2 separate regions of the Homo sapiens genome follow, and region 1 is linked to region 2. Evidence: fine-mapped expression QTL. A gene starts in region 2. The other region holds a variant in brackets. All regions are shown on one strand. Distances are from middle to middle.

Region 1 (5,369 bases), 490 kb after region 2:
CCATATCAAATAAATAAATAAATAAAAATTAGCCAGGTGCAGTGGCTCACGCCTGTAATCCCAATATTTTGGGAGGCTGAGGCAGGTAGATCACTCGAGGTCAGGAGTTCGAGACCAGCCCGGCCAACATGGTGAAACCCCATCTCTATTAAAAATACAAAAATTAGGTGGGTGCAGTGGCTCACGCCTGTAATCCCAGCACTTTGGGAGGCTGAGGCAGGTGGGTCAAGAGGTGAGGAGTTCGAGACCAGCCTGACCAACATGGTGAAACCCCATCTCTACTAAAAATATAAAAATTAGCTAGGCATGGTGGTGTGCACCTGTAATCCCAGCTATTCAGGAGGCTGAGGCAGGAGAATCGCTTGAACCCAGGAGGCGGAGGTTGCAGTGAGCCAAGATCACACCACTGCACTCCAGCCTGGGCGACAGAGCAAGACTATATCACACACACAAAAAAATTAGCCAAGTGTGGTGGCAGGCACCTGCAATCCCAGCTACTCGGGAGGCAGAGGCAGGAGAATCTCTTGAACCTGGGAGGCAGAGTTTGCAGTAAGCTGAGATCACGCCACAGCACTCCAGCCTGGGTGACAGAGAGAGTCTGTCTATCTCAAAAAAAGAAAAAGAAAAAAGAAAGAAAAGAAGTATATCTTTTTTGAGGACAACATGAGAAGAATGGGAAGAGAAGGTCATTTTACAACCTGCTTGTCTCAATTAACATATACTAGGAACATCTTTATATGTCAACCATATAAAGACACCCAGTATTATTTGGAGAGATGTGGGAATGTATTTTATGTACCATAGGGATGAACTATAACTTCTTTTACTCTATCCTTATGAATGAATATTTAATATACTTTGCTTAAAACATAATCTTACAAATAAAAATGATATTAAGGATTTATATGTATATATGTTAGCATTGCCAATTTTAAAAAATATACCCATTTTATGGCTGGGCACAGTGGCTCACGCCTGTAATCCCAGCATTTTGGGAGGCAGAGGCGAGCGGATCATGAGGTCAGGAGTTCGAGACCAGCCTGGCCAACATGGTGAAACCCCGTCTCTACTAAAAATACAAAAATTAGCCGGGTGTGGTGACATGTGCCTGTAGTCCCAGTACTTGAGAGGCTGAGGCAGAAGAATCGCTTGAACCCGGGAGGTGGAGGTTGCAGTGAGACGAGATCATACCACTGGATTCCACCCTGGGTGACAGAGTGAGACTGTCTCAAAAAAAAAAAAAAAAAAAAAAAAAAAAAAAAAAAAAATATATATATATATATATATATACACACACACACACACACACACACACACACCCATAACCATTTTACATTTTTAAAAATTATAATGTCTAAATACCTTTCAGTAAATAAATTAACAAAATGTTATTAAATAATTACATTGGGACCCCTCAAAAAATTTCTCCAGCTGGGCGCACTGGCTCACATCTGTAATCCCAGCATTTTGGGAGCCCAAGGTGGGTGGATCACTTGAGGTGAGGAATTTGAGACCAGCCTGGCCAACATGGTAAAACCTCGCCTCTACTAAAAACACAAAAATTAGCCAGGTATGGTGGTGTGTACCTGTAATCCCAGCTACTCGGGAGGCTGAGGCAGGAGAATCGCTTCAACCTGGGAGGCCAGGTTGCAGTGAGCCGAGATCGTGCCACTGCACTCCAGCCTGGGCAACAGAGCAAGACTCCATCACAAAAAAGAAAAAAGAAGAAAAAAACTTCTCCTATGTTAAAACTTGCATAAACTTAAAATATAGAGACTGATTTTAAGAAAGAGTTTATATTAATATAGTATCTGCCACCCTGCCCAAATTATCTATTGTTATAACTTGATATTTAATGTAAAGAATAAGATAAAAATCCAAAAAATTTTGCCTTCAGAAGATATTATACCCACAAAGAAAGCATTTCTAAAAAAGTACTAGCTTGGGCTGGGTGTGGTGGCTCATGCCTGTAATCCCACCACTTTGAGAGGCCGAGGCGGGCAGATCACCTGAGGTCGGGAGTTTGAGACCAGCCTGACCAACATGGAGAAACCCTGTCTCTATTAAAAATACAAAATTAGCCAGGAGTGGTGGCGCAAGCATGTAATCCCAACTACTCAGGAGGCTGAGG[C/CAGG]AGAATAGCTTGAACCCAGGAGGCAGAGGTTGCAGTGAGCCAAGATCGCACCATTGCACTCCAGCCTGGGCAACAACAGCAAAACTCCATCTCCAAAAAAAAAAAAAAAAAAAAATACTAGCTTAACATCAGAGCCATTTATGGAATTAATAATGCTGATTATATTTCTCTGAGATGTTAGCTTTACCCGCAACCTAATTCAAATGTGTTCAAATGAGGCTCCTTCAGATGTATGTAAAGAATATCTACAATATGGTAGCTGCCAAATAAGCTGCCTCAAACCAAAAAACAAAAAACAAAAAATAAATTTAAAAAGAAACATCCCAGGCAACAAGGATTTTCCCCCTGGTGGACTTAAAAATCTTAGCAGGCTATCAACAGTTTAAATTTACAAATTAGATGTAAACTTTAAAGTTACTCTTTCCATAGTTGTTCATTTTTTGCTCTGGTATATCTGCTCATTTTCTGAAAATTTAACAGCAATCTGATGCAGTAGGACAATCTGAAGCTGAATTACCAAAACCAAACAAAACATAACATCAGGCCACAAAAGAACAATCAACTTATTTCCAAATAAAACATTTAAAGATCTTGAATAATAGTTCAACTTTAAACACATAAGGAAAACAACTGACTGACCTCCACACAGAAAAATCCATAAATTCAATTCTACACACACACATACCCAGTGCAGTTAAATCACAAGAAAGAGACTTTTGCCTCTAATAGTAAATCCCATAGCCCAGTAGGTTTGGGGATCAAATTACCTGTTGCATTTTCTTGTATTCACCCACTCTGGCATAGGCCATGAAGAGGTGAGAGTGATACTCCTCACTATTGGGAACTTTCTTCACAGCTGCCTCATAAAGTTTTGTAACTAACTCCGCTAAGATAAAGAGAAATAAGATTTAAGTTATACTTCAAGAACATTCTAATGGCATTTAATGTTCTTCCTATTTGGCAGAAATAGATGTCTCCTATCATTATAGAAGAAGTATCTGCTTTGCCTCATCCAATCATCATTCATCTCTTGGTTAGGTGGTGTTTAAATGAAGCATGGAATAGGTCAAGCCTTCTCATAGCATTTACAACATATAAGACCTTATAGGATCTGGCCTCTGTCTCCTCTTTCCCTCAGCACTTTATCATGTAGCCACAAACTATTTGTAGTTCCACCAGATTCTCTGGGATGTATCATACATAACTCTATGCCTCTAAACTCTTCGCTCTGCCTGAATTCTCCTTTTCTCTCTTTTATCTTAGTGAACATCAGCCAAGACCCAATTCAAATGTAAGCTGAACTGTAAGACTTTCTCTGAACACCATCTCTGCTTCTCCACTGCAATTTGACCACTGCCTCCCTCTGCCATCTTGGAATCTTATATAAGTAAGTATATTGTAGTTTTTTTTTTTTTTTTTTTTTTTTTTGGAGATAGGTTCTCACTCTGTCGCCCAGGCTGGAGTGCAATGGCACAATCACGGCTCACTGCAGCCTCGACCTTTCAAGCTCAGGTAATTCTCCGACCTCAGCCTCCCAAGTAGCTGTTCTGCAGGCACATACCACCACAACTGGCTTATTTTTTATATAGACAGTGTTTCGCCATGTTGCCCAGGCTGTACTATAGCATTTATTAACACATAATGTAGTATACTGTCTAGTGATCTATTTCCCCTTATAGACAATGAGTGCCATGACAACAGAAAGTGCTTTTTTTTTTTTTTTGGAGACAGAGTTTTGCTCGTTACCCAGGCTGGATTGCAATGGTGCGATCTCGGCTCACTGAAACCTCTGCCTCCTGGGTTCGAGTGATTCTCCTGCCTCAGCCTCCCAAGTAACTGGGATTACAGGCATGCATCACCACACCCGGCTAATTTTGCATTTTTAGTAGAGATGGGGTTTCTCCATGTTGGTCAGGCTAGTCTCGAACTCCCGACCTCAGGTAATCCACCCACCTCAGCCTCCCAAAGTGCTGGGATTACAGGCGTGAGCCACTGCGCCCGGCTGAAAGTGCATTTTTTATCTTTGACTCTGATAGAATACCAGTCATAGAGAAACATGCCACCAATATTTGTGGAGTAAATGATTTTTTTTAAAACACTGGAGAAGAATCCATATCCCTAAATCAACACAATCTGTAAATACTCAGATATAATACCTCAACTCTTAGGTTTTATCTTTTGTAAAAATTAAAAACAAAATTGAAGCTGAGCACAGTGCCTCGTGCCTATAATCCCAGCACTTTGGGAGGCTGAGGCAGGCGGATTGCTTGAGCCTAAGAGTCCAAACTAGCCTGGACAACACAGCAAAATCCTGTCTCAAAAGAAATTGGCAAAAATGATTAAGGTTACAAATACCAAATGTTACAATCTGAGCTATTTGAATGAATGAAGAGAGAAAGAATACCAAGTGTTGACAAGCATGTAAGCAATCAGAACTCAAAAACTGCTATTCTATTTATAAAAGAAGTTGACATTATCTTGCTTTAAGCTAAACATACACTTACCCCATGACTTGAAAATTCTACTCCTAGATATTGTAATGTAACCCAGTGAAATATTTTGTGGTAGTGAAAATGGATTAACTATAGCCACTTGGCTATTAGATGAAAAATGCAAGTCATAGAATATACATAGTACAGATGCACTAACAAAAGTTTAAAATTAAGCAAAACTAATAATGTATTACTAAGAGAAATAAATGTAATAAACATTTAAAGGGAAGCAAGAGAATAAAAAATATTCAGGATAGCGAGTAACTCTTGGTAGGTAAAAGGAGAATTAAGATTGATTGAGGAGGCCAGGTGCACTTGGCTCACGGCTGTAATCCCAGCTCTTTGGGAGGCCAAGGCAAGTGGATCACTTGAGGTAAGGAGTTTGAGACCAGCCCGGCCAACATGGTGAAACCCGTCTCTACTAAAAATACAAAAATTAGCTGGGGATGGTGGTGCATGCCTGTAATCCCAGCTACCTGGGAAGCCGAGGCAGGAGAGGATGCATGAACTCAGAAGGTGGAAGTTTCGATTCTCCTGCCTCAGCTTCCCAAGTAGCTGGGATTACAGGCGTGCACCACCACACCCAGTTAATTTTTGTATTTTTAGTAGAGACAAGGTTTCCCTATGTTGGCCGGGCTGTCTCTAACTCCTGACCTCAAATGATCTGCCAGCCTCGGCCATCCAAAGTGCTGGGATTACAAGTTTTAGCCACTACGCCTGGCAACGCTCCATTTCTTAAATTAGGT
Region 2 (5,369 bases):
TTCTAGAAGCTGAAACTTATTTACAAGGAATGCAGGAAAGTGATTCAAATTCAAAGTAATTCTACAAGTACATTAACGATCTGTTCAAGAATAAAACTTCACATTACACAAATCCAACACAGTAAACAAAATTTCACCTATTCATCAGAAAGAATAAGGGCTGCCATTTAGGTCTCAAGTAAAAGAACTTAAAGCAAGGAAAAATCTAAATTAACCTTAAATTGTTGTAAAGCCTCAAGGAACAGAAAAAAGACCTTGTGGTACTAAAACATTCCAAATATCTTTGATCACTCAAACTACTCAGGAGCAAATTCTCTTATAATCTAATTTTTAAGCCTAGTAGTCAATGCAACTTAATAACCTTAGTTTTAATGTTTATATATTTGAACATGTTGAATTATCTGCCAAATCTCTTCCTAATACCTAAGAAAGTAAAAACAGAATACATCCTTTTCTATAAAAGTTGTATTTTAAATTTTTTCATTTTTCGCTAGATGCCAACGAAAAAGGGAAACTGAAGTTACCCTACTTGGGGAAACGATCACTTCATCTGAACTAGTTTGGCTAAGTAGTGTTTGGGATGCTTCAGACTCAGAGAAGGGGAAGGGGGGGCGGGGCGTGTAAAGTCAAATAACCGACTGTTTCCGCCCCCTTTGAAGGCAGCAGAATTCCTTAAAAACCAGCTGATTCCTCTTGATGGGGAATTTCTGCTGTAAATAAAAATTCTTTGGAAATGGGTTGCTGAAAATGTGTTTTCAAAAAGAAAACTCGGGTGAATGAAAAATCCTCTTATTCCACCTTCCAAAGCCCAAGATGCCTATTTAAGGAGGACGCCGGTCACCCGCCGTCAAGCCGGCGGCCTAGGCCTAAAGAAGGCACAGTAGTGCCTACAACACGGATGGACTTGAGGCACAAGGGAAATGGACTTGCGTGCCCTTGGTAAGCTCTGGCGGCACTCCCGAAGTTAAGGACACCGGCCACAATGGAATGGAGTCTATTGACGTTTCCTTCTCCCTTTGAACACTAAGCATTTTCTTAGTTCGTGAAATACGAACTGACAACCGCCCGCCACCCCCAACAGGCCCTCCTGCACAAACACACCCTCGAGTCAAACCCAGTTAGCCGGGACAACACTGAGCCCCCAGCCCCTACTACAACCCCGGCTTAGGAGGGAAAAAGACGCTAGTAAACACCCGCCTTTCTGCCTTCAGGAACCCGACCACGTCCCCTGCTGCAATCTCTCTCTCCTAGCATTTCCGAAATTGGGGCGGGGGTTGGGATAAGTGCGCAGGGTGCCCGCCCCCTGCCACCAGCACCGCCACCCCGGATCTCCAGGGTCCAGCCTGGGTCCAGCCCTCACCCACCGATGTTCCACAGGCGCCTTCTCCACTGCGGCCTCGAACAGCAATGCGGATCGGCCACCACCCGCGCGCCGGAGAGGTCTGGCGGGGGAAGGAGGAAGGCCGGGACGGGGCCGGGCACTCCCCACCCCTTCCCTTCCCCAGGTGGGGGAGGGTGGAACGCTGCCGGAGGCCACATGGAGCCCCACGATTTCAGGGGAGTTCGGGAGCCCCCGCCGCCGCCTCGGACACGAACGCAGAGGGGTGCGGGGGCCAAGGCCCACTTGTCTCCACCCCGTCCTCCGATCTTTCCCAGGACTCGGAGGGGGCGGGGAGAGAGCCCCGACAGACCCTGATGATTCCGGAGGAGCCCGGTGCCTACCCCTTTAACCGGCACGGGGGACGCGGCCCTAACTTCTCCCCTCCAGAGATGTCCCCCATGGAGGGGGACATGTTCCGGAAAACGCCACCACAGCCTCCAGACCCCTCCAACGTTCACACCTAAACCGGGAGTGGAGGAGCTGCCCGAGCATCCCCACGCTGCGGGCGGAGGATCGTGCGGAAGGGGGAGCCGGGGCTGACCATCGCCGCTACCCGAGAACCCCTCCCAACACGCGTGGGGAGGGGAGGCCGCCCGCTCCCTCCATCTTGACCGCCGGGGGAGGGGGCGGGGATGCTGCGGGAGGCTGGACAGGCCTGACAATCCCAGAGGACCCCGGCTGCGCCCACCGGCCGAGCCTCGGGGCTCAGGCCCGAGCGAGTCTCCCCCGCGCTGCCGGCCCCCAGCCCACCCCGGGTAGCCCGGCGGGTCACGGGGCGGGGACGGCGGCGCGGGCCGCGGGGGAGGGGACGCCGGGCCCGGAGCGGAGGGGGCTGGGGTGCCGACACCCACCTGCCCAGGCCGGGCCTCCCGCCGCCGGAGGTCGCCGCGACCACCGAGGAGGGAGCCGTGGCCGAGGACGAGGAGACCGAGGACGAGGACGGCGAAGGCGCGGCGGCGGGCGACGCTAGAAGGCCGCTGCCGCCGGGCTTGCGGACATTGGCAGCCGCGGGCGGCGGCTGCTGCTGCTGCTGCTGCTGCTGCTGTTGCTGCTGCTGCTGCTGCTGCTGCTGCTGCTGCTGCTGCTGGGGCTTCAGCGACATGGTGAGGGGCCCATACACCGGCTCGCACGCCGGGCGGGGACAGCCGGGAGCCGGGCGCGCCAAGGAGACGCCGGAACGCGGCGGGGACGCGCGGGCGCCGAGCGGGGAGGCGCGGGTTGGCGCGGCCGGAGGGGCGCCCGGGCTGGCGAGGGGGAGAAGGAGGACGACGAAGGGGCGGGGAGGCCCGCCGAGACCAAGGAGCCGCCGGGAGCCGGGCCGAAACGCGCCGCCGCCGTTGCCGTTGCTACCAAAACAGTCTGAGGCGGAGGGAGGCGAGCTCTGCCGGGAGGGAGGGGGGCCGGGGCCGGGCGGGGGAGGGGCGGCGGAGGGATACGGTCCCGGGGCCGCGCCACCGCCGCCCCGCCCGCTCCGCCGCGCCGGCCGCTGGAGCGAGCGCCACCCGGGCCACCTGGCTGCGGCGAAGCGGCGAGACTCGGTGGCCACCGCGGGACTCCGAGGAGCTGCGGCCGCTGAGCGCATCGGAGGGCGGGCGCGCCGAGGCGCCGGGTGGGAGCGGAGGTGCGGATAGGGACTCTTTACCGGAAGTCGGAGGGGTCAGACGGAAGCAGAACGTGAGGTGGCCCCGGGGCCGGGAGGGACACGTGAGGAGCGGGCGGCGCGCTGGGTTGCTTTCTCGGGGGTCGGGTGAGGGCCAGGCGGCGGTCCCTACCCGGATCCGCCTTCCTCAAGGCGGGTCTGCCCTTCGGGGAGGGCGTGTCGGTCTCAGCCTCTGGGGCCTGCCTGGTGTGGAGGACAGGAGAGAAGCATTTCTTCTCCTACTGTATTCCTTCAGCATCTTCACTTCTGCGGGGACCTAGTTTGCCCCCACCTGATGCAACCCAGAAAATGGACTGACTGCGAGTGCCTTGGGGCGGAGAATGTGTCTTGCTACGTGTAAAGCACCTAGAACCCTGCCAGATTCAGGGGACACAGCATCCTGCCGTTTTCCTGCCGTCCCCCGCCCGCCACACAGTAGGCGCTCCAGTGGCTCGGGGCATCTACCAGGCAGGCCGCGCTGTCCTGCCCTGCCGGGGCTGGAGTGGAGCAACCCTCCGGGGCCACCCACATCTGGGTACCTTTTCCCCACTTTTTCCACCCCAGCCGCGCACAGTCACCAGAAAACTCTTTTAGGTATCTGACCTTCATTTGAACCTATGTTCCCTCACTTGAACTTCTTTTTCCTCATTCATGAGATTCTAAAGGAAATATATGGGATTGGGACTGGTAGAACTACGGATAATGGGATCTCCCTCGGTAGAGACAGAGCCGACCTCAAAACAATGTGCGAACTTTAGACCTTGGACCCTTTAGAAGTTTTAATTTAACTTACCCAGCCAGCACAGTAGACTCTTTTTAAAATGTGTTGCAGTTAAACTGGAAGCAAGTAGAAAGTAGGTAACTTTTTTTTTTTTTTTTGAGCAGTGAATCTATTGTTTTTTAAAGTGAAATGACTTCAGGAAATAATAGGGGAAGAAACACCAAAATTCCCCTCAATGTCCTAGAACTGTCCAGATAAAGGTAAAGACTTAGATAAACGTGGAGAATGATTGAACCAGCAGTTTTCAGTAGTCCAACTGAAATTAACCTCCTAGATAGTCCAGGCAAAAATGATCATTGTATTCTGCCAATGTAGGAAATCAGTTTTATTTCCCATCTAAGGTAAAAAGTAGATCAAGGGACCATTGCAAAACCCTTTAAAAATTAACCTAGCCTAGCCAACATGGTGAAACCCCGTCTCTACCAAAAATATAAAAATTAGCCGGGTGTGGTGGTGGGCGCCTGTAATCCCAGCTACTCGGGAGGCTGATACAGGAGAATTGCTTGAATCCGGGAGGTGGAGGTTGCAGTCAGCCGAGATCATGCACTCCAGCCTGGGCGACAGAGCGAGACTCCGTCTCAAAAAATAAATAAATAAATAAATAAATAAAGTAACCTAAAGGAAACTGGAACTAAAAAACCAGTTGAAACAAAAAAATACCTGTACCCGGCTGTGGTACAGGCCAGGGCTGCTGTGAGGGGAAGCTCCTGGAGAGGGTGACATGGGGCAGGGACCCAAATGAGCATGGGCATGAGGATCCTGGGGAGAAACGCTCCAGGTGGAGGGCACAGCGAGGGCAAAGGCTCTGAGGGGGGAGTCTGAGGAACAGCAAGGAGGCCTGCAATGGAGCAGGTCGTCAATGGTGTCCCGTTATATTCTTTCTTTAATAGAAATACAAACACTTGGCCTGGCGCGGTGGCTCACACCTGTAATCCCAGCACTCTGGGAGGCCGAGGCGGATGGATCACCTGAGGTCAGGAGTTCAAGACCAGCGTGGCCAACATGGTGAAACCCCATCGCTACTAAAAATACGAAAAAATTAGCTGGGCGTGGTGGTGGGCATCTGTGATCTCAGCTACGCAGGATGCTGAGGCAGGAGAATCGCTTGAACCCAGGAGGCGGAGGTTACAGTGACCAAAGAGGGCACCACTGCACTCCAGCCTGGGCAACAAGAGCGAAACTTTATCTAAAAAAAATAAAAATAAAAAAATACAATCACTTTTCTCTGATTGGAATCAAGGTCCCAGAATACAATCTTAAGAACAAGTTTTGGCCAGTGTGGTGGCTCACGCCTGTAATCCCAGCACTTTGGGAGGCAGTGGCCGGTGGATCACCTGAGGTCAGGAGTTCGAGACCAGCCTGGCCAATTTTTAGTAGAGCCCATCTCTACTAAAAATACAAAAATTAGCTGGGTGTGGTGATGCGCACCTGTAGTCCCAGCTACTTGGGAGGCTGAGGCAGGAGAATGGTGTGAACCTGGGAGGCGGTGCTTGCAGTGAGCGGAGATCACACCACTGCACTCCAGCCTGGGCGACAGAGCGAGACTCCGTCTCAAAAAAAAAATAGTA

Evidence for each region. PIP is the estimated chance that this variant, and not a neighbour inherited with it, causes the effect.
Region 1: its variant is the best candidate, but not a certain one, in a credible set for the expression of ATXN2-AS in caudate (GTEx, PIP 0.67).

What each region holds. Positions count from the first base shown.
Region 1 is chr12:112,084,785-112,090,153 of GRCh38, forward strand. It overlaps NAA25 (N-alpha-acetyltransferase 25, NatB auxiliary subunit), which reads right to left. Exons shown (of 24, transcript NM_024953.4): 4 at 2,899-3,017. Among named protein-coding and RNA genes, the nearest start is that of NAA25, 21 kb to the right of the region's middle. The variant C/CAGG (reference allele first, on the strand shown) is at 2,132.
Region 2 is chr12:111,596,552-111,601,920 of GRCh38, forward strand. ATXN2-AS (ATXN2 antisense RNA) reads left to right here and starts at 2,947. Exons shown (of 2, transcript NR_146497.1): 1 at 2,947-3,002; 2 at 3,277-3,704. ATXN2 (ataxin 2) reads right to left here and starts at 2,764. Exons shown (of 25, transcript NM_001372574.1): 1 at 2,233-2,764. The coding sequence starts at 2,483. RefSeq lists silencers at 1,409-1,538, 2,129-2,178, 2,269-2,438, 2,499-2,808 and an enhancer at 3,269-3,498.